2 separate regions of the Homo sapiens genome follow, and region 1 is linked to region 2. The links come from fine-mapping of genetic effects on gene expression. A gene starts in region 2. The other region holds a variant in brackets. All regions are shown on one strand. Distances are between the middles of the regions.

What was found. PIP is the estimated chance that this variant, and not a neighbour inherited with it, causes the effect.
Region 1: its variant is fine-mapped to the expression of C8orf33 in blood mononuclear cells (TOPMed, PIP 0.99).

What each region holds. Positions count from the first base shown.
Region 1 is chr8:145,016,800-145,026,844 of GRCh38, reverse strand. It overlaps the pseudogene LOC124902043. Among named protein-coding and RNA genes, the nearest start is that of ZNF252P-AS1, 19 kb to the right of the region's middle. The variant A/G (reference allele first, on the strand shown) is at 5,444.
Region 2 is chr8:145,047,935-145,057,979 of GRCh38, reverse strand. C8orf33 (chromosome 8 open reading frame 33) reads right to left here and starts at 5,513. Exons shown (of 5, transcript NM_023080.3): 1 at 5,483-5,513; 2 at 5,083-5,394; 3 at 4,834-4,918; 4 at 4,537-4,683; 5 at 1,950-3,962. The coding sequence starts at 5,488. The coding sequence ends at 3,823. It also overlaps the pseudogene LOC100419763. RefSeq lists enhancers at 4,139-4,939, 5,868-5,917, 5,958-6,087 and a silencer at 5,588-5,657.

The sequences.
Region 1 (10,045 bases), 31 kb after region 2:
CAGGGAGATCTTGAGGCATGGCAGTATCCGGTAATGTTACAACCGATACCGGCCGGGAAAGGGCCAGGAAAGGGAGTCAAGCAGGAGCGTCTGTCCGAACGGAGGCTAGGTAAGAATATTTCACCATGAAAATGTTAAAAGACATAAAGGAAGGAGCTAAACAATATGGACCCAACTCTCCTTATATGAGAACGTTATTAGATTCCATTGCTCATGGAAATAGACTTATTCCTTATGATTGGGAAATTTTACCTAAATCTTCCCTTTCACCCTCTCAGTATCTACAGTTTAAAACCTGGTGGATTGATGGAGTACAAGAACAGGTACGGAAAAATCAGGCTACTTATCCTGTTGTTAATATAGATGCAGACCAATTGCTAGGAACACGTCCAAATTGGAGCACTATTAACCAACAATCAGTAATGCAAAATGAGGCTATTGAACAACTAGGGGCTATTTGCCTCAGGGCCTGGGAAAAGATTCAGGACCCAGGAACCAGTTAGAGACAGTTTTCAGACTGTTATATCATTCATTATGTTGATGATATTTTGTGTGCTGCAGAAACAAGAGACAAATTAATTGACTTTTACATGTTTCTGCAGACAGAGGTTGCAAACACAGGCCTGACAATAGCATCTGATAAGATTCAGACCTCCACTCCTTTTAATTATTTGGGAATGCAGGTAGAGGAAAGAAAAATTAAACCACAAAAAATAGAAATAAGAAAAGACACATTAAGAACATTAAATGACTTTCAAAAATTGCTAGGAGATATTAATTGGATTGGGCCAACTCTAGGCATTCCTACTTATGCCATGTCAAATTTGTTTTCTATCTTGAGAGGGGATCCAGACTTGAATGGTAAAAGAACAATAACTCCAGAGGCAACTAAAGAAATTGAATTAGTTGAAGAAAAAATTAATTCAGCACAAGTAAATAGAATAGATCACTTAGCCCCACTCCAATTTTTGATTTTTGCTACTGCACATTCTCCAACAGGCATTATTGTTCAAAATACAGATCTTGTGGAGTGGTCATTCCTTCCTCACAGTACAGTTAAGACTTTTACATTGTACTTAGATCAAATGGCTACATTAATTGGTCAGACAAGACTACGAATAGTAAAATTGTGTGGAAGTGACCCAGATAAAATCATTGTTCCTTTAAACAAGGAACAGGTTAGACAAGCCTTTATCAATTCTGCTGCATGGCAGATTGGTCTAGCTGATTTTGTGGGAATTATTGATAATCATTACCCAGAAACAAAAATCTTCCAGTTTTTAAAATTGACTACTTGGATTTTACCTAAAATTACCAGACAAAAACCTTTAGAAAATGCTCTGACAGTGTTTACTGATGGTTTCAGCAATGGAAAAGTGGCTTACACTGGGCCAAAAGAATGAGTCATTGAAACTCAATATCACTCAGCTCAAAGAGCAGAATTGGTTGCTGTCACTTCAGTGTTACAAGATTTTAATCAGCCTATTAACATTGTTTCAGATTCTGCATATATAGTACAGGCTACAAAGGCTACAAAGCTCTAATCAAATATAGTATGGATTATCAGTTAAATCATCTGTTTAAATTGTTACAACAAACTGTAAGAAAAAGAAATTTCCCAGTTTATATTACTCATATTCGAGCACATACTAATTTACCAGGGCAATTAACTAAGGAAAATGAACAAGCTGACTTGCTAGTATCATCTGCCTTGATGGAAGCACAAGAACTTCATGTCCTGACTCATGTAAATGCAACAGGATTAAAAAATAAATTTGATATCACATGGAAACAGGCAAAAAATATTGTACAACATTGTGCTCAGTGTCAAGTCTTACACCTGCCCACTCAGGAGGCAGGAGTTAATCTCAGAGATTTATGTCCTAATGCATTATGGCAAATGGATGTCACACATGTACCTTCATTTGGAAAATTGTCATTTGTCCGCGTGACAGTTGATACTTATTCACATTTCATATGGGCAACCTGCCAGACAGGAGAAAGTACTTCCCATGTTAAAATACATTTATTATCTTATTTTGCTGTCATGGGAGTTCCAGAAAAAATTAAAACAGATAATGGGCCAGGATACTGTAGTAAAGCATTTCAAAAATTCTTAAATCAGTGGAAAATTACACATACAACAGGAATCCCTTATAATTCCCAAGGACAGGCCATAATTGAAAGAACTAATAGAACACTCAAAGCTCAATTGGTTAAACAAAAAAGGGAAAAAGACAGTAAGGAGTATAACACTTCCCAGATGAACTTAATCTAGCACCCTATACTTTAAATTTTTTAAACATTTATAGAAATCAGACCACTACTTCTGCAGAACAACATTTTACTGGTAAAAAGAACAGCCCACATGAGGGAAAACTGATTTGGTGGAAAGACAACAAAAGTAAAACTTGGGAAACAGGGAAGGTGATAACATGGGGGAGAGGTTTTTCTTGTGTTTCACCAGGAGAAAATCAGCTTCCTGTTTGGATACCCACTAGACATTTGAAGTTCTACAATAAACCCATCCCATCAGAAATGCAAATAAAAGTGCCTCCACAGAGACAAAAAACCTGCAGTTGAGCATCATCGACCCACCAGGTGAACAAAATGGTGATATCAGAAGAACAGATGAAGTTGCCATCCACCAAGAAAGCGGAGCCGCCAACCTGGGCCCAGCTAAAGAAGCTGACACAGTTAGCTGAAAAAAGTCTGAAAAACACAAGGGTAACACAAACTCCAGAGAATATGCTGCTTGCAGCTTTAATGATTGTATCAATGGTGGTAAGTCTCCCTATGTCTGCAGGAGCCGCTACAGCTAACTATACTTACTGGGCCTATGTGCCTTTCCGACCCTTAATTCGGGCAGTCACTTGGATAGATAATCCTATTGAAGTATATGTTAATAATAGTGCATGGGTACCAGGCCCCACAGATGACCGTGGCCCTGCCCAACCTGAAGAAGAAGGAATGATGATAAACATTTCCATTGGGTATCATTATCCTCCTATTTGCCTGGGAAAAGCACCGGGATGCTTAATGCCTACAAACCAAAATTGGTTGGTAGAAGTACCTACTGTCAGTGCTACCAGTAAATTCACTTATCACAGGTAAGTGAAATGTCACTCGGGTCACAAATAAATAATTTACAGGATTCTTCCTATAAAAGATCATTAAAATTTAGGCTTAAGGGAAAATCTTGCCCCAAGGAAATTCCAAAAGAATAAAAAGACTCAGAAGTCTTAGTTTGGGAAGAATGTGTGGCTGATACTGCGGTGGTATTACAAAACAATAAATTTGGAACTATTATAAACTGGGCCGCTTGAGGCCAATTATATTATGATAGTACAGGCCAGACCCACTCATGTTCACAGGCTCCATCAGTCTGGCCCACTAATCCGGCCTATGATAGTGATTTAACTAAAAGGCTAGACCAGGTTTATAGAAGGCTAGAATCACCCTATCCATGGAAATGGGGTGAAAAGGGGATTTCATCACCCCGCCCAAAGTTAGTTAGTCCTGTTGTTGCTCCTGAACACCCAGAATTATGGAAGCTCACTGTGGCCTCATACCACATTAGAATTTGGTCTGGAAATCAAGTTATGGGAACAAGAAATCATAAACCATATTTTACTATTAACCTAAAATCCAATCCGACAATTCCTTTGCAAAGTTATGTAAAACCCCCTCATATGCTAGTTGTAGGAAACATAGTTATTAAACCAGATTCCCAAACTATAACCTGTGAAAATTGTAGATTGTTTACTTGCATTGATTCAACTTTTGATTGGCAGCATCGTATTCTGTTAGTGAGGGCAAGAGAGGGTGCGAGGATCCCTGTGTCCATGGACCGACCGTGGGAGGCTTCTCCATCCGTACATATCTTAACAGAAGTATTAAAAGGAGTTCTAACTAGATCTAAAAGATTCATTTTTACTTTAATTGCAGTGATTATGGGTCTTATTGCAGTCACAGCTGCTGCTAGGGCTGCTGTAATTGCTTTACCCTCCTCTGTTCACACTGCAGAATATGTGAATAATTGGCAAAAGAATTCCTCAAAATTGTGGAATTCTCAGACTCAAATAGATCAAAAATTGGCAAATCAAATTAATGATCTTAGACAAACTGTCATTTGGATGGGAGATAGGCTCATAAGTTTGGAATATCTTTTTCAGTTACTGTGTGACTACAATACATCAGATTTTTGTATTACACCTCAAGCCTATAATGAATCTGAACATCACTGGGACATGGTTAGATGCCATCTACAAGGAAGAGAAGATAATCTTACTTTAGATATTTCAAAATTGAAAGAACAAATTTTTAAAACATCCAAAGCCCAGTTAAATTTGGTGCCAGAAACTGAGGCAATGGAAAAAGCTGTTGATAGCCTCACGAATCTTAAACCTGTCACTTGGGTTAAAACCATTGGAAATTCCACTATTGCAAATTTTGTATTAATCCTTGTATGTCTGTCCTCTCTATTGTTAGTCTACAGGTGTATCCAGCAGCTCCGGAGAGACAGCGGCTAGCGAGAACGGACCATGATGATGATGGCGGTTTTGTCAAAAAGAAAAGGGGGATATGTAGGGAAAAGAGAGAGAGATCAGACTGTTACTGTGTCTATGTAGAAAGGGAAGACATAAGAGACTCCATTTTGAAAAAGACCTGTACTTTGAACAATTGCTTTGCTCAGATGTTGTTAATTTGTAGTTTTGCCCCAGCCACTTTGACCCAACCTGGAGCTCATAAAAACATGTGTTGTATGAAGTCAAGGTTTAAGGGATCTAGGGCTGTGCAGGATGTGCCTTGTTAACAAAATGTTTACAAGCAGTATACTTGGCAAAAGTCATTGCCATTCTCTAGTGTCAACAAACCACAGGCATAATGCACTGCAGAAACCCACAGGGAACTCTGCCCTTGAAAGCTGGGTATCGTCCAAGGTTTCTCCCCATGTGATAGTCGGAAATATGGCCTCATGAGATGAGAAAGACCTGACTGTCCCCCAGCCCGACACCCGTAAAGGGTCTGTGCTGAGGTGGATTGGTAAAAGAGGAAAGCCTCTTGCAGTTGAGATAGAGGAAGGCCACTGTCTCCTGCCTGCCCCTGGGAACTGAACGTCTTGGTATAAAACCCGATTGTACATTTGTTCAATTCTGAGATAGGAGAAAAACCGCCCTATGGTGGGAGGTGAGACATGTTGGCAGCAATGCTGCCTTGTTATTCTTTACTCCACTGAGATGTTTGGGTGGAGAGAAACATAAATCTGGCCTATGTGCACATCCAGGCATAGTACTTTCCCTTGAACTTAATTATGACATAGATTCCTTTGCTCACATGCTTTTTGCTGACCTTCTCCTTATTATCACCCTGCTCTCCTACTACATTCCTTTCTGCTGAAATCATGAAAATAATAATCAATAAAAACTGAGGGAACTCAGAG[A/G]CCGGTGCCGGTGCAGGTCCTTGGTGTGCCGAGTGCCGCTCTCCTGGGCCCACTGTTGTTTCTCTATACTTTGTCACTGTGTCTTATTTCTTTTCTCAGTCTCCCATCCCACCTGACTAGAAATACCCACAGGTGTGGAGGGGCAGGCCACCCCTTCAGATTATCAAGAACTCCAATGAAGCCAGCTAAATCTATTTGCCAATTGACTGAATTAACAAAGGCTTTCCAAATCTGATTTTTATTCATTGGAACTATAATCTTATCTGGATCTGAGCCACAAAGTTTAACAACTCTAAGGTGAGCTTGCCCAATCAAGATTGCCATCTGATCCAAGTATACTGTGAGTGTTCTAACAGTATTGTGAGGCAGAAAAGACCATTCAACTAAGTCCTCACTCTGAACTGTAACCCCTGTAGAAGAATGGAGAGTAGGGAACACAATGAACTGTAATGGTAAATTTGAGTCTATTCTATTAACCTGGGCCTGTTGTATTTTTTCTTCAATCATTTGTAATTCTTTGGCAGTCTCAGGAGTCAGTTCTCATTTACTATTGAGAGCAGGGTCACCTCTTAAAATAGAGAACAGATTAGACATAGCATAGGTAGGGATTCCCAAAGGAGGTCAAATCCAATTGATATCCCCTAATAATTTTTGAAAATCATTTAAAGTTTTCAGAGAGTCTTTTTGAATTTGAACCTCTTGGGGTCTAATTGCCCTTTCCTGATCCTGCATTCCCAAATATTGGAAAGGAGTGGATGTTTGAATTTTATCTGGTGCTATGAGCAATCCAGCATTGGCTACCACCTCCTGTAAATATGAATAACACTGGATAAGTCAGTCTTAACTTTTGACCGTACCCAATATGTCATCCATAAAATGAATGATATATGAATCAGGAAACTGATCTCTCACAGGTGGAATAGCCTTCCCCACAAAAGTTTGACAAATAGTAGGACTATTCAACATATCCTGCAGCAGGACTTTCCAATGATATCTGGCTGCTGGTTCCTTGTTGTTCATAGCAGGAATAGTAAAAGCAAATTTCACAAAATCAGACTCTGCTAGAAGAATATTTAAAAAGCAATCCTTCAAATCTATAATTACTAATGGCCAGTCTCTAGGAATCATGGTGGGGGATAGAAGCCCCAGCTGCAGGGCCCCAATCAGCTGAATGAATGTGTTCACCACACGTAAGTCGGTTAGCATGCGCCATCTGCTGGATTTTTTCTTTATTACAAACACCGGCAAATTCTATGGAGAAAATGTGGGCTCAATGCTTCCTTTGTTTAATTGCTCTTTGACTAATTCCTGTAAGGCCCCCAATTTTTCCTGAGTAAGTGGCCACAGCTCAACCCAAACAGGATTTTGGGTCTTCCATTTTAAGGGAATAGGACTTGGAGGCTCAACAGTGACCACCCCTAAAAATGGTAACCTACATGGGAGGTTCCAAGATGGCCAAATAGGAACAGTTCCAGTCTAGAGCTCCCAGCATGAGCGATGCAGAAGACAGGTGATTTCTGCATTTCCAACTGAAATACCAGGTTCATCTCACTGGAGCTTGTCAGACAGTGGGTGCAGGACAGTGGGTGCAGCCCACCGAGTGAGACCTGAAGCAGGGCAAGGCACCACCTCACCTGGGAAGTGCAAGGGGTCAGGGAATTCCCTTTCCTAGCCAAGGGAAGCTGTGACAGATGGCACCTGGAAAATCGGGTCACTCCCACCCTAATACTGTGCTGTTCCAATGGTCTTAGCAAATGGCACACCAGGAGATTATTTCCTACACCTGGCTTGGAGGGTCCCACACCCATGGAGCCTTGCTCATTGCTAGCACAGCAGTCTGAGATCGAACTGCAAGGTGGCAGCAAGGCTGGGGGAGGGGCGCCCACCATTGCTGAGACTTCAGTAGGTAAACAAAGCGGCTGGGAAGCTTGAACTGGATGGAGCCCACTGCAGCTCAAGGAGGCCTACCAGCCTCTGCAGACTCCACCTCTGGGTGCAGGGCATAGCTGAACAAAAGGCAGCAGAATCTTCTGCAGACTTAAATGTCCCTGTCTGACAGCTTTGAAGAGAGTAGTGGTTCTCCCAGCATGGAGTTTGAGATCTGAGAACAAACAGACTGCCTCCTCAAGTGGCTCCCTGACACCTGAGTACCCTAACTGGGAGGCACCTCCCAGTAGGGGCTGACTGATACCTCACACGGCCGGGTACCCCTCTGAGATGAAGCTTCCAGAGGAATGATCAGGCAGCAACATTTGCTATTCTGCAATATTCGCTATTCTGTAGCCTCTACTGGTCATATCCAGGCAAACAGGATCTAGAGTGGACCTCCAGCAAACTCCAACAGACCTGCAGCTGAGGGTTCTGACTATTAGAAGGAAAACTAACAAACAAAAAGTACATCCACACCAAAACCCCATCTGTACGTGACCATCATCAAAGACAAAAGGTAGATAAAAACACAAAGATGGGGAGAAGCCAGAGCAGAAAAGCTGAAAATTCTAAAAATCAGAGCACCTCTTCTCCTCCAAAGGAATGCAGCTCCTCACCAGCAATAGATCAAACCTGGATGGAGAATGACTTTGATGAGTTGAGAGAAGAAAGCTTCAGATGATCAAACTTCTCTGAGCTAAAGGAGGATGTTTGAACCCATCACAAAGAAGCTAAAAACCTTGAAAAAAGATTAGACGAATGGCTAACTGAATAACCAGGGTAGAGAAGACCTTAAATGACCTGATGGAGCTGAAAGCCATGGCACGAGAACTACATGTGCAAGCTTCAGTAGCTGATTCAATCAACTGGAAGAAAGGGTATCAGTGATTGAAGATCAAATGAATGAAATGATGTGAGAAGAGAAGTTTAGAGAAAAAAGAGTAAAAAGAAATGGAACAAAGCCTCCAAGAAATATGGGACTATGTGAAAAGACCAAATCTACATCTGATTGGTGTACCTGAAAGTGATGGGGAGAATGGAACAAAGTTGGAAAACAGTTTTCAGGATATTATCCAGGAGAATTTCCTCAACCTACCAAGGCAGGCCAACATTCAAATTCAGGAAATACAGAGAATGCCACAAAGATACTCCTCAAGTAGAGCAACTCCAAGACACATAATTGTCAGATTCACCCAAGTTGAAATGAAGGAAAAAATGTTAAGGGCAGCCAGAGAGAAAGGTCGAGTTACCCACAAAGGGAAGCCCACCAGACTAACAGTGGATCTCTCAGCAGAATCTCTACAAGCCAGAAGAGAGTGGAGGCCAATATTCAACATTCTTAAAGCAAAGAATTTTCAACCCAGAGTTTCATATCCAGCCAAACTAAGCTTCATAAGTGAAGGAGAAATAAAATCCTTTACAGACAAGCAAATGCTGAGAGATTTTGTCACCACTGGGCCTGCCTTACAAGAGCTCCTGAAGGAAGCACTAAACATGGAAAGGAAAAACCAGTACCAGCCACTGCAAAAACATGCCAAATTGTAAAGACCATCGATGCTAGGAAGAAACTGCATCAACTAATGAGCAAAATAACCAGCTAACTCAAAATGACAGGATCAAATTCACACATAACAATATTAACCTTAAATGTAAATGGGCTAAATGCTCCAATTACAAGACACAGACTGGCAAATTGGATAAAGAGTCAAGACCCATCAGTGTGCTGTATTCAGGAGACCCATCTCATGTGCAGAGACACACATAGGCTCAAAATAAAGGGATGGAGGAAGATCTACCAAGCAAATGGAAAACAAAAAAAAGCAGGGGTTGCAATCCTAGTCTCTGATAAAACAGGCTTTAAACAACAAAGATCAAAAGAGACAAAGAAAGCCATTACATAATGGTAAAGGGATCAACTCATCAAGAAGAGTTAACTATCCTAAATATATATGCACCCAATACAGGAGCAACCAGATTAATAAGGCAAGTCCTTAGAGACCCACAAAGAGACTTAGACTCCCACACAATAATAATGAGAGATTTTAACACCCCACTGTCAACATTAGACAGATCCACAGGACAGAAAGTTAACAAGGATATCCAGGAATTGAACTCAGCTCTGCACAAACAGACCTAATAGACATCTACAGAACTCTCCACCCCAAATCAACAGAATATACATTCTTCTCAGCACCACATCGCACTTATTCCAAAATTGACCACATAGTTGGAAGTAAAGCACTCCTCAGAAAATGTAAAAGAACAGACATTATAACAAACTCTCAGACCACAGTGCAATCAAACTAGAACTCAGGATTAAGAAACTCACTTAAAACCGCTCAACTACATGGAAACTGAACAACCTGCTCCTGAATGACTACTGGGTACATAACGAAATGAAGGCAGAAATAAAGATGTTCTTTGAAACCAATGAGAAAAAAGACACAACATACCAGAATCTCTGGGACACAATTAAAGCAGTGTGTAGAGGGAAATTTATAGCACTAAATGCCCATAAGAGAAAGCAGGAAAGATTTAAAATTGACACCCTAACATCACAATTAAAAGAACTAGAGAAGCAAGAGCAAACACATTCAAAAGCTAGCAGAAGGCAGGAAATAACTAAGATCAGAGCAGAACTGAAGGAGATAGAAACACAAAAAAACCCTTCAA
Region 2 (10,045 bases):
AGGAAAGCAACCAGGATTCAAAGCAGCCTGTGACTCTACCTGAGTCTGATTATGAGGAAAAGAACCTGGCTTCAAGGGAGCCTGTGACTCTAACTGAGTCTCAGTAGTAGGAAAGGAACAGTGCCTCAAGGGAGCCTGTGACTCTAACCGAGTCTCATTAGGAGGAAAGGAACCAGGCCTCAAGAGAGCCTGTGACTTTAACAGAGCCTGTGATTCTAACCGAGTCTGAGTAGAAGGAAAGGAACCAGGCCTCAAGGGAGCCTGTGACTCTAACCCAGTCTGATTAGGAGAAAAGGAACCAGGCCTCAAGGGATCCTGTGACTCTAATGGAGACTGATTAGGAGGAAAGGAACCAGGACTCAAGGGAACCTGTGTCTCTGAGTCTGAGTAGGAGGAAAGGAACAGCACCTCAAGGGAGCATGTGACTCTAACTGAGTCTGATTAGGAGGAATCAGGCCTCAAGGGAGCCTGTGACTTTAATGGAGCCTGTGACTCTGAGTCTGACTAGGAGGAAAGGAACCAGGACTCAAGGGAGCCTGTGGCTCTAGCCGAGTCTGTGTAGGAGGAAAGGAACCAGGCCTCAAGGGAGCCTGTGACTCTAACCGAATTTGAATAGTAGGAAAGGAACCACGCCTCAAGGGAGCATGTGACTCTAACTGAGTCTGAATAGGAGGAAAGCAGCCAGGCTTCAAGGGAGCCTGTGACTCTACCCACGTCTGATTAGGAGAAAGAGAACCTGGCTTCAAGGGAGCCTGTGATTCTAGCCAAGTCTGATTAGGAGGAAAGGAACCAGGCTTCAAGGCAGCCTGTGACTCTTGCCGAGTCTGAGTAGGAGGAAAAGAACCAGGTCTCAAGGGAGCCTATGACTCTAAGCGAGTCTGATTAGGAGTAAAGGAACCAGGCCTGAAGGGAGCCTGTGGTTCTACCGGAGTCTGATTGGGGGGAAAAGACCAGGCATGAGAAAACCAGGCTGTGGAGGGATATCGTTGCGGGCCTCATTACCTGGCCGAGAATTGAAAGCCTCCTCTCCGGGCTGTTCAGGTATCAGAGCCTCTGTACCGGGCTGCATGGAAACAATTTATAGCCTCGTTTTCAGGCTGCCTGATCTCATCCTCTGTCTGCAGGGTGGCAGCGTTGACAGGGTGAGGAGAAGCAGGGGGGTGCGTCCACAATGGTTGTTGGCATGTTTCAGCTGAGTTTTGCTGGTTGGGGGAAATAAGTTCATTCGGGTCAGTTAAAAGATCATCATAAAGCGACAACGGGGGTGCGGTAGCCTCTTGCATACGTGGTGGCGGCACAGGCATGTCAGAGTGGAATTCCGCCTGTGAAATTATGGTCTCAATTTGTGCAGTATCCTCAGGGGAAAGAGAAGTGAGAAATTCCTCGCCCTCCTCAGGGAGAGGAAAGAGGGATCAGTCTCCATGCTGTCCTGAGTCTGTAAGGAGTCTAGGACAGAGCGAACCGAAGCCCAGATTGACCAAATGGTGGGTGGAATAAAATGTCCCCCTTTATGAGCAATTTTGAATTGTTGGCCGATCTCATCCCAATCTTTAAGTTCTCAAGTTCCCTCAGTCGGAAACCAAGGGCAAAGAAGATTTACAACCGCAAATAGTTCAATTAACTTTTCAGTAGAAACTTAAACCCCTCCTTCTTTAAGAAGAGTTTTTATAAAATTTAAATAAGCTGAGTACTTAGTACTGGCTTGTACCATGGTGTCCCCAGAATACTCTGAGTGCTCAAGCTTACCACCAAGCTTACTAACAGCAATCCTCAGGAATCTCTTGTCAAAATCCTCCGCTGAATCCCGCACTCAGAGTGCAACCTCACACAGCGAGGGAGAGCCCCACATCAGAGCGCCAGATGTAGGGTCCAGCCCCACAGGGTCAGTGGGTTTTCTCCCCATGTGCAGAGATGAGAGATTGTAGAAATAAAGACACAAGACAAAGAGATAAAAGAAAAGACACCTGGGCCTGGGGGACCACTACCACCAAGACGCGGAGACCAGTAGTGGCCCCAAATGCCAGGCTGCACTGATATTTATTGGATATAAGACAAAGGGGCAGGGTAAGGAATGTGAACCATCTCCAATAATAGGTAAGGTCACATGGGTCATGTGTCCACTGGACAGGGGGCCCTTCCCTGCCTGGCAGCAGAGGCAGAGAGAGAGAGAAGAGAGAGAGACAGCTTATGCCATTATTTCTGCATATCAGACATTTAGTACTTTCACTAATTTGCTCCTGCTATCTAAAAGGCAGAGCCAGGTATACAGGATGGAACATGAAAGCGGACTAGGAGCGTGACCACTGAAGCACAGCATCACAGGGAGACAGGCCTCTGGATAACTGCGGGCGGGCCTGACTGATGTCAGGCCCTCCACAAGAGGTGGAGGAGTAGTCTTCTCTAAACTCCCCCGGGGAAAGGGAGGCTCCTTTTCCCAGTCTGCTAAGTAGTGGGTGTTTTTCCTTGACACTGATGCTACTGCTAGACCATGGTCCACTTTGCAACAGGCATCTTCCCAGACACTGGTGTTACTGCTAGACCAAGCCCTCTGGTGGCCCTGTCCGGGCATAAGAGAAGGCTCACACTCTTGTCTTCTGGCCACTTCGCACTATGTCCCCTCGGCTCCTATCTCTGTATGGCCTGGTTTTTCCTAGGTTATGATTGTAGAGTGAGGATTATTATAATATTGGAATAAAGAGTAATTGCTATAAACTAATGATTAATGATACTCACATATAATCATGTCTATGATCTAGATCTAGTATAACTCTTCTTATTTTATATATTTTATTATACTGGAACAGCTCGTGCCCTCAGTCTCTTTCCTCGGCACCTGGGTGGCTTGCCACCCACATAGGCAGTCATGCCATTCACTGAAAAGCAGAAGCCAAAGGAAAACCGGAGCCTAATCAAGTGTTTTAAACACATCAGGTTTGAAATGCCTATGAAGCACCCAAGTGGAAATGCTGAGTAGGCAGCTGGGCTCCAGGTATCAATCTAGTCTGGGAACTGAGTTTGGAAGATACCAGCAAACATCAAGCCACCAATGAGGATTAGGTCACCTGGAGATTCCCAATTCCATGGAACAGAGGGCCTGAGACTGAATGGCCAACATTTAGACAAGAAGTCTGCCAAGGCTCAATCCAGGTCTCAGGCCAGAACTGTTAGCGCAAGAAGCTCCTTGCTCCTAAGAACAGAGCCTGGCCTGGTAGGTGCCATGCTGGTTCCCTGAGGATGATACCTGCTCAGGAATGAAGGCAACATGCACAAAGGTACCAGGTGAGGGACTGGACCCAGGGATACCACACCCCTGCATCTTCTGTACTTCCTCTAACATAGGTGGTCAGCATACTCTTTCACTCCTTATCCAATTTTATCAAAAATAGAGATTAGGGCAATATGACATAACAGCATTAAGCACTAAACCATTTGACAGGGATTCCTTTCAAAAGTGAAAACCAGTGTACGATTATACAGCTTCTCCACTAATCTTTGTTACCAACAGCCACTTAATCTAATCCTAAAGACTGAGTACAATATTCCTTCTACAATACTTTGAACACTCACTTCAATTTATTGCATATTTTCTAAATGCACCTCTCTCTCTCTTCTGAAAGAGAGAACATTTCATCAGAAAACGAACGGGGTCTTTTGCCTATCTGATGGTCTCACACCTTCACAACAGCTACAAATCCTTGGACCAGCCAGGGACAGACCAACTCCAGGGTTCTCTGACAACAGAAGTCCTGGAAAGGCTCTGCACTCAAAACAAACCCCTACACCACCCCAAGGGAGGGGGATTGTTTCAGGTTCGGGGAGACGCTAAAAGAAATTGAACCTAAACTCTTCATCAGGCATGTCCAGAGTGGCTTTGGCTCTCCATATAGAGCGAGGCCTGCAGACCCTTTGGCTCTTCTTTCTGGTGGCTCCATCTACAGGTTGCACCTGGGCTGAATAAGCAGCTGTCGGGGAGAGAAGCAGCGTATGTCAGAACTGAATAATAACAATTAACATTACCTGTACAGTTATGTTTGCCCATACAATTCTAACCACCTTGCATAAATTAACTGATTAATTCCTCAAATTTGTAAGGTTGATATTACTATCATCCCCCACTTAGAGAGGTTCAGTAGTTTGCAAAAGGTGTTAGTACTACTATGTGGTAGATCCAGGATTTGAACCTAGCTGATCTGGCCCCAGGAATTGCACTCAAACTGTTATGGGATATGGCTTCATTGCTAGTAGAGAAAGCCAAGACACAAAGACATGAGGCAGCTTTCCCCAACCCAGGAGCAGGACCAACATAGGACCATGCTCTTTCCCACTCCTCCCAGGGCCTCCCCGCTGCTTCCCAGGTTCAGTCCTAGGAAGAGGAAAGAGAGGTCCACGCTTTCTGTTTCCCTGCTCCCTCAGGCTTCCCTGAGCCCATCTCCTTCCCCCACCAGGCTTGTTGCTCTGGGCCTTCTTCCTTTCACCCCCTAGACACTTCCTCCTTAAGTTAGGCCTTCCTGAATCAACCAGTGGCTAGCTCCTCACCAGCTCTGAGAGCCCGCAGGGCCTCACGCCATTCGGCTTCCATCTGAGCCCTATAGTCTCCAAACAAGGAGTGCATCAGCTGCCTCTTCCGGGGCAAGGGCGTTCTTTTGCTGCGCAGGGTTCGGATTGCTCCAATAGCCTGCTCTTCTGCGAATAAAAATAAAGGACTAGTGAACACCTCTATTACTGACCTCCTACCACCCCGCCGCAAAGCCAACAACTCCATACTCTGCCAGCACCTGCAGGCCAGGCAGTGCCACTGTTCACATCCCCCAGCTCTACAGAAGGGTCCCTTACTCTGTTTCGGGGTGGGTTTCTGCCTCTTGAGGCCCAGCTCCAGTTGCTCCACACACCAAGCCAATTCCTGGGCCAACTGTTGTGCCTGTGATGGATTTGGGGAAGTGGCTGTGAGAGGGCACTGGAAAACCATAGCCGCCGGCCCCATCCCATGCCCCTCCCCGCCTTAACTCCGCGGACCCCAGATCACACGTGCCCGTGGATTCGCACCCGTGGATTCCACCCTTCCCGACCGAAGCCCGCCCTTGCCTGGGCCTCAGCGCTTAGGGGAACTTCTTCTGGGGCGAGTTTCTCTGAGGCCTTCTCGCCTCCATTTGCCACAGAGGCCCTGTTCCGCGTTTTCTTCTTATTCTTTTGTTTTTTCGACGCTGTGCCGCCTTCATCGCCCAACGGGTGCGCTCTGGAGTCAGCGTTACTGCACGTAGGTTGCTCTGGGCAGAGACAGACAGTGGAAGGATTCCGGGCGCTGGAAACTGGGCCGGGAAGCCGGGCTCCGCGGGACGCGCAGGGAGTACCCGGGCCTGGGGCCGCCGCTGCCTCCCCAGCAAGATGTCCCAGGGCCTGGAGAAAGGGGGGTAGCACGAGGGTCACCGAGAGCCGCCAACAATGCAAGGCCCAGCCACCCGCGCGTCTTCTCCACACCGCTCACCGCCATGCGCCGCAGTCGCCACCGGAACTACGCGGGGCGCAGAGTCCGACGCCGAATTCCGTCCTTCAAGAACGCGCCTGCGACTCTAGGTTCCGCGGGGCGCGGGCGGGGCGCGGGCGGGGCGCGGGCGGGGCGCGGGCGGGGCGCGGGCGGGGCGCGGGCGGGGCGCGGGCGGGGCGCGGGCGGGGCGCGGGCGGGGCGCGGGCGGGGCGGGGCGCGGGCGGGGCGCGGGCGGGGCGGGGAGCGGGCGGGGCGGGGCGCGGCTGGGGTGGGATGAAGCTGGGACGGGGCGAAGCTGGGACGCGCCTGGGACGAAGCTGAGATGGGGCTGGGGCGGGGCCTGGGGGTTCGGGGAAGAGGCTGAAGAGGGGTCTCGGAAGAACCCTTGTGAGCGAGTGATCGCGGGCGCTGACTACGTGCCCGGCACCTTTCCGGATAAAAGTTCAAAGCTCTCCACGAGGGTGTGTCTTCTCAAGGCTCACCTTTTGGTGGGGAGGGAAAAGCAAGTAAACAGCACGTGAGCAGCTACGGCGCAAGAGGGTGGTCGGCAAAGACCCTGGGAAATGGGGAAGAGCGAGGGTCAGGGCGCGGTCGTTTGAGAGGCCGGCGTCTCGGGACGTGGAGGCTCGGGTGAGGTCTGAGAGTTGGGAGGGCCCCCGTCATGGGCTTACTTCCGTTCTAACGCAGTGGGAAGTCGCTGCAAGATGTAAATCTGAAGAGTGGCATAATCGTAGACGTATGTTCTGCAGATCTCTCTGCTCTTGTGTAACGAGTGGGGCACATGGGGTGGAGGGACGTGGAGGGGTTTCAGAAGCAGACGCGGGAAGAGCCTTGGACAGGATATGGACGTGAGGGAGGGTGGCGGTATGGGGGAGAGGGAGAGCCCCATCCCACCACCTCTCTTCCCCTGGATGCTTCCCTCCCACTATACCTTGCTAGAGACCTGGGGTCACACACAACACTCGACCCCCGCCGATGGAGGCATGACAACCGAGAGGAATTGCGTAGGGGTTGAGGTGAGGCTGAGTAGGGTTTCAGGGGGGCAACGGGCTATGCCAGGAGGGTGGGTTGTGTTGCTTGAGAAGGTAAGAGTCCGAGATGTCTGATGATTCCTTTCGGGGACACAGGAGTGGAAAGCGGTGTTTCCTGAGACGGTGGGGTGGGAAGTGTTAGCTGCCTGGTCTGCAAGGTCTCGAAGGGTTACAGTTTGGTCATCACTGATAGTTATTTACTGCAGTGTGATACATTACTCCCAAAATTCGGCGGATTGGCCGGGCGCGGTGACTCACGCCTGTAATCCCAACACTTTGGGAGGCCGATGCGGGCGGATCACGAGGTTAGGAGTTTGAGACCATCCTGGCTAACATAGTGAAACCCCGTCTCTACTAAAAAATACCAAAAAATTAGCCGGGCATAGTGGCGGGCACTTGTAGTCCCAGCTACTCGGGAGGCTGAGGCAGGAGAATGGCATGAACCCGGGAGGTGGAGCTTGCAGTGAGCCAAGATCGCACCGCTGCACTACAGCCTGGGTGACAGAGCGAGACTCCATCTAAAAAAAAAAAAAAAAAAAAAACACGCAGAATTTAAACGGGACACGCAGTAAAGGAGATGCGGCATACAGTAATTTATTACAAAGGAGAAAGAATATTTGGAAAGTTAAGTGAACAATAGACAGTACACCCTGAGAGAGAGAGAGAGGATTGAGGGCCAGCTGCTCATAAGGTTGGGGCAGCAAAGACGCATGAGGGAGACTCCCTTTATGGGGGTCTTACATGATTATTCATAAGGAATTGGGAAGAGGTGCTACTAGTGAGTATGTTCTGGATGGTCCTCTGAGTGCACATGTGCGGTAGCTGTATGTTCTTACATGCTTGTTCATACAATGCTTCTTGTCATACAATGCTTGTTCTACATGCTGGTATATGATTGTTCGTACATGTCACATGTCTTATTAGCATCTTAAACCTCCAACCAGGGCTCTGTTTTTTACTATTATAATGAGCGAAAGGTCAGTCTGAGGACAGGTAAAATCAAAATGTACATGCTCTTTGCAGGGGAAATTCTCTACTGAAGATAGTTTTGCTTGAAAGAGCTTAACCACAATGTGAAGGCAGAGGCTTATTGTGCTGATTGCACAGTCACAACAGTTGCTGCATCCCGAGGACATGGTTACTTCCTTGACTACCTATCCTGCCTCACTTTCAATGCTCTGATTTTATCCATTACCTTCCTGACTCATATGCTATTTTTGTCTTGACTTCATTTCTATCTTTGTTTTTAAATCTGCCATATTAGACTTAATTCTATTTACAGTCAGTGTTTTCAAATATACAACTTTTGTTTTTCTTAGAGTCCATGTCTCACTCTGTCACCTAGGTTGTCCTGGGCTCAACTGATCCTCCCTCCTGCCTCAGCCTCCCAAGTAGCTGGGACCACAGGCATGCACCATCATACCAGCTAATTTTGTAATTTTTTGTAGAGATGGGGTCTCACCAGGATGCCCAGGCTGGTCTTGAACTCCTGGGCTCAAGCAATCTTCCCACCTCAGCCTCCCATGCCTGGCATCATTCCTTATATCTCAGTTCTGATATCATTTCTTTAAATGTACATCCTTTTAAAGCTCCTTTAATGAAATCTGTTATGGTGTTTTGGGTTTTGCTCATCTGAAAATGCCTATTTTTATTCTAATTCCTGGAGGATAGTTTGGATAGAAACACAATTTGAGGTTAACAGTTATTGTCTCTCAGAATTTTGAAAATGAGCCATCTCTGTAGACCTCTCCCACCTCTGGGACCCCACTCAACCCTGTATTCTTACCTCTATTACTGTACTGATGTGGTTATCTGTCTCTACATACCTTTGTATCCCAACTAGACTGAGAGATATGAGGAAAAGAGGCCAAGTGTTTCTGCATCTCTGATTTGCCATTGTCAGGCACACTACCAGGCACATAGGGGCTGCACAGTAATTGTAGGTTGATGTAATCATGAATAACCTTGGATTTGAACTGTTGCCTTTCCAGTGCTATATTTTCTATGGTTCCTCTTGTGGCAGGAAACATGAGTCTTCAGAAAAGATTTTTCCATAGTTAGCAAATCACACCAAAATATTTATTAAGGGGCTGAATGAATAAGGCAATGGGATGGGTACGGTGAAAGAACAAGAGAAGTACCCTGACCTTGAAGGACACAGTTTAAGAAAACAGATATCCAGGCTGGGCACAGTGGCTCCGCATATAATCCCAGCACTTTGAGAGGCCAAGGCAGGCAGATTGCCTGAGCCCAGGAGTTTGAGACCAGCCTGGGCAACATGGTCTCTACAAAAAATTTAAAAAATTAGCCGGTTGTGGTCCCAGCTACTTGGGAGGCTGAGGCAGGAGGATTGCTTTGGGCAGCGGTGGGAAGGGGGATGGTGCAGGGGCGGATGTTGCAGTGAGCCAAAATTCTACGACCACCCTCCAGCCTGGGTGACAGAGAAAGACCTAGTCTCAAAAAAAAAAAAGAAAAAAGAAAGAAAGAAAACATATATCTAAATATGTTTATATATACTGTGTCTCCATTAACATAATTACAAGTTTGGATCACATTTTACTTTTATTTTTTTCTCATTTTTTTCTATGATAAAGCCTGATTTTTTAAACTTAAAATTAGCCTGAAGACTTTGTCACAGTATTTATGTTCATAAAGTTTATTGATAGAGTGGATTTTCTGCTACTGAACAGGCTCTAAACTATTAAAGACTACATACCCTGATACTTAATAAGTTTTGACACATAATATAAGGTTTTTGCACATGCATGAGATTCATAGGCTTTGTCTCTTCTTTGATTCTTTTTGATCCAGAAAGTGGTATGAATTCTGTATGGTCTTCCCATATTCACTGTACCCATAGGGTTTCTCTTTACCTGGAACTGCCTTAGGTTCTGCAGGGGCTATGAATCTACAAAAAAACTTTCCTACATTTACTGTAGTTATCAGATTTCATTCCAATGTGAATCTGCTGATGTATAACAAGGGTTGGATTCTGACCAAACACCTTCCCACATTCATTACACTCCTGTAATTTCTCTCTGTGATGAATATCCTGATGTCAAATAAGGTACAAATTTGGATGGGAATTTTTGCCAAATTCCTTGCATTCATATGGCTTATTTCCTGTGTGGATCCTATGATGTGAAATAAGGTGTGACCTGTAACTAAAGGCTCTTCCACATTCATTTACATTCATATGGTTTCTCTCAGCATGAACTCTGACAGAATAAGATTTAAACTCTGGATGAAAGTTTTCCCACATTCATTACATCCATTAGGTTTCACTCCAGTGTTAATTATCTGATTTTTAGCAAGTGCTGAGCTCCAATTGAAGGCTTTCCACATTGATTGCATTCACGGGCCTTTTCTCTACTGTGAATTATCTGCTGCTGAATAAGGTGTGATTTTGAATGGAAAGCTCTTCCACAGTAATTACATACTTATGACTTCTTTCCACTGAATTTTTTGATGCTGAATTAGGTGTGAGCTCTGTGCAAAGGTTTTCTCATACTTTCTGTATTCATGAGATATT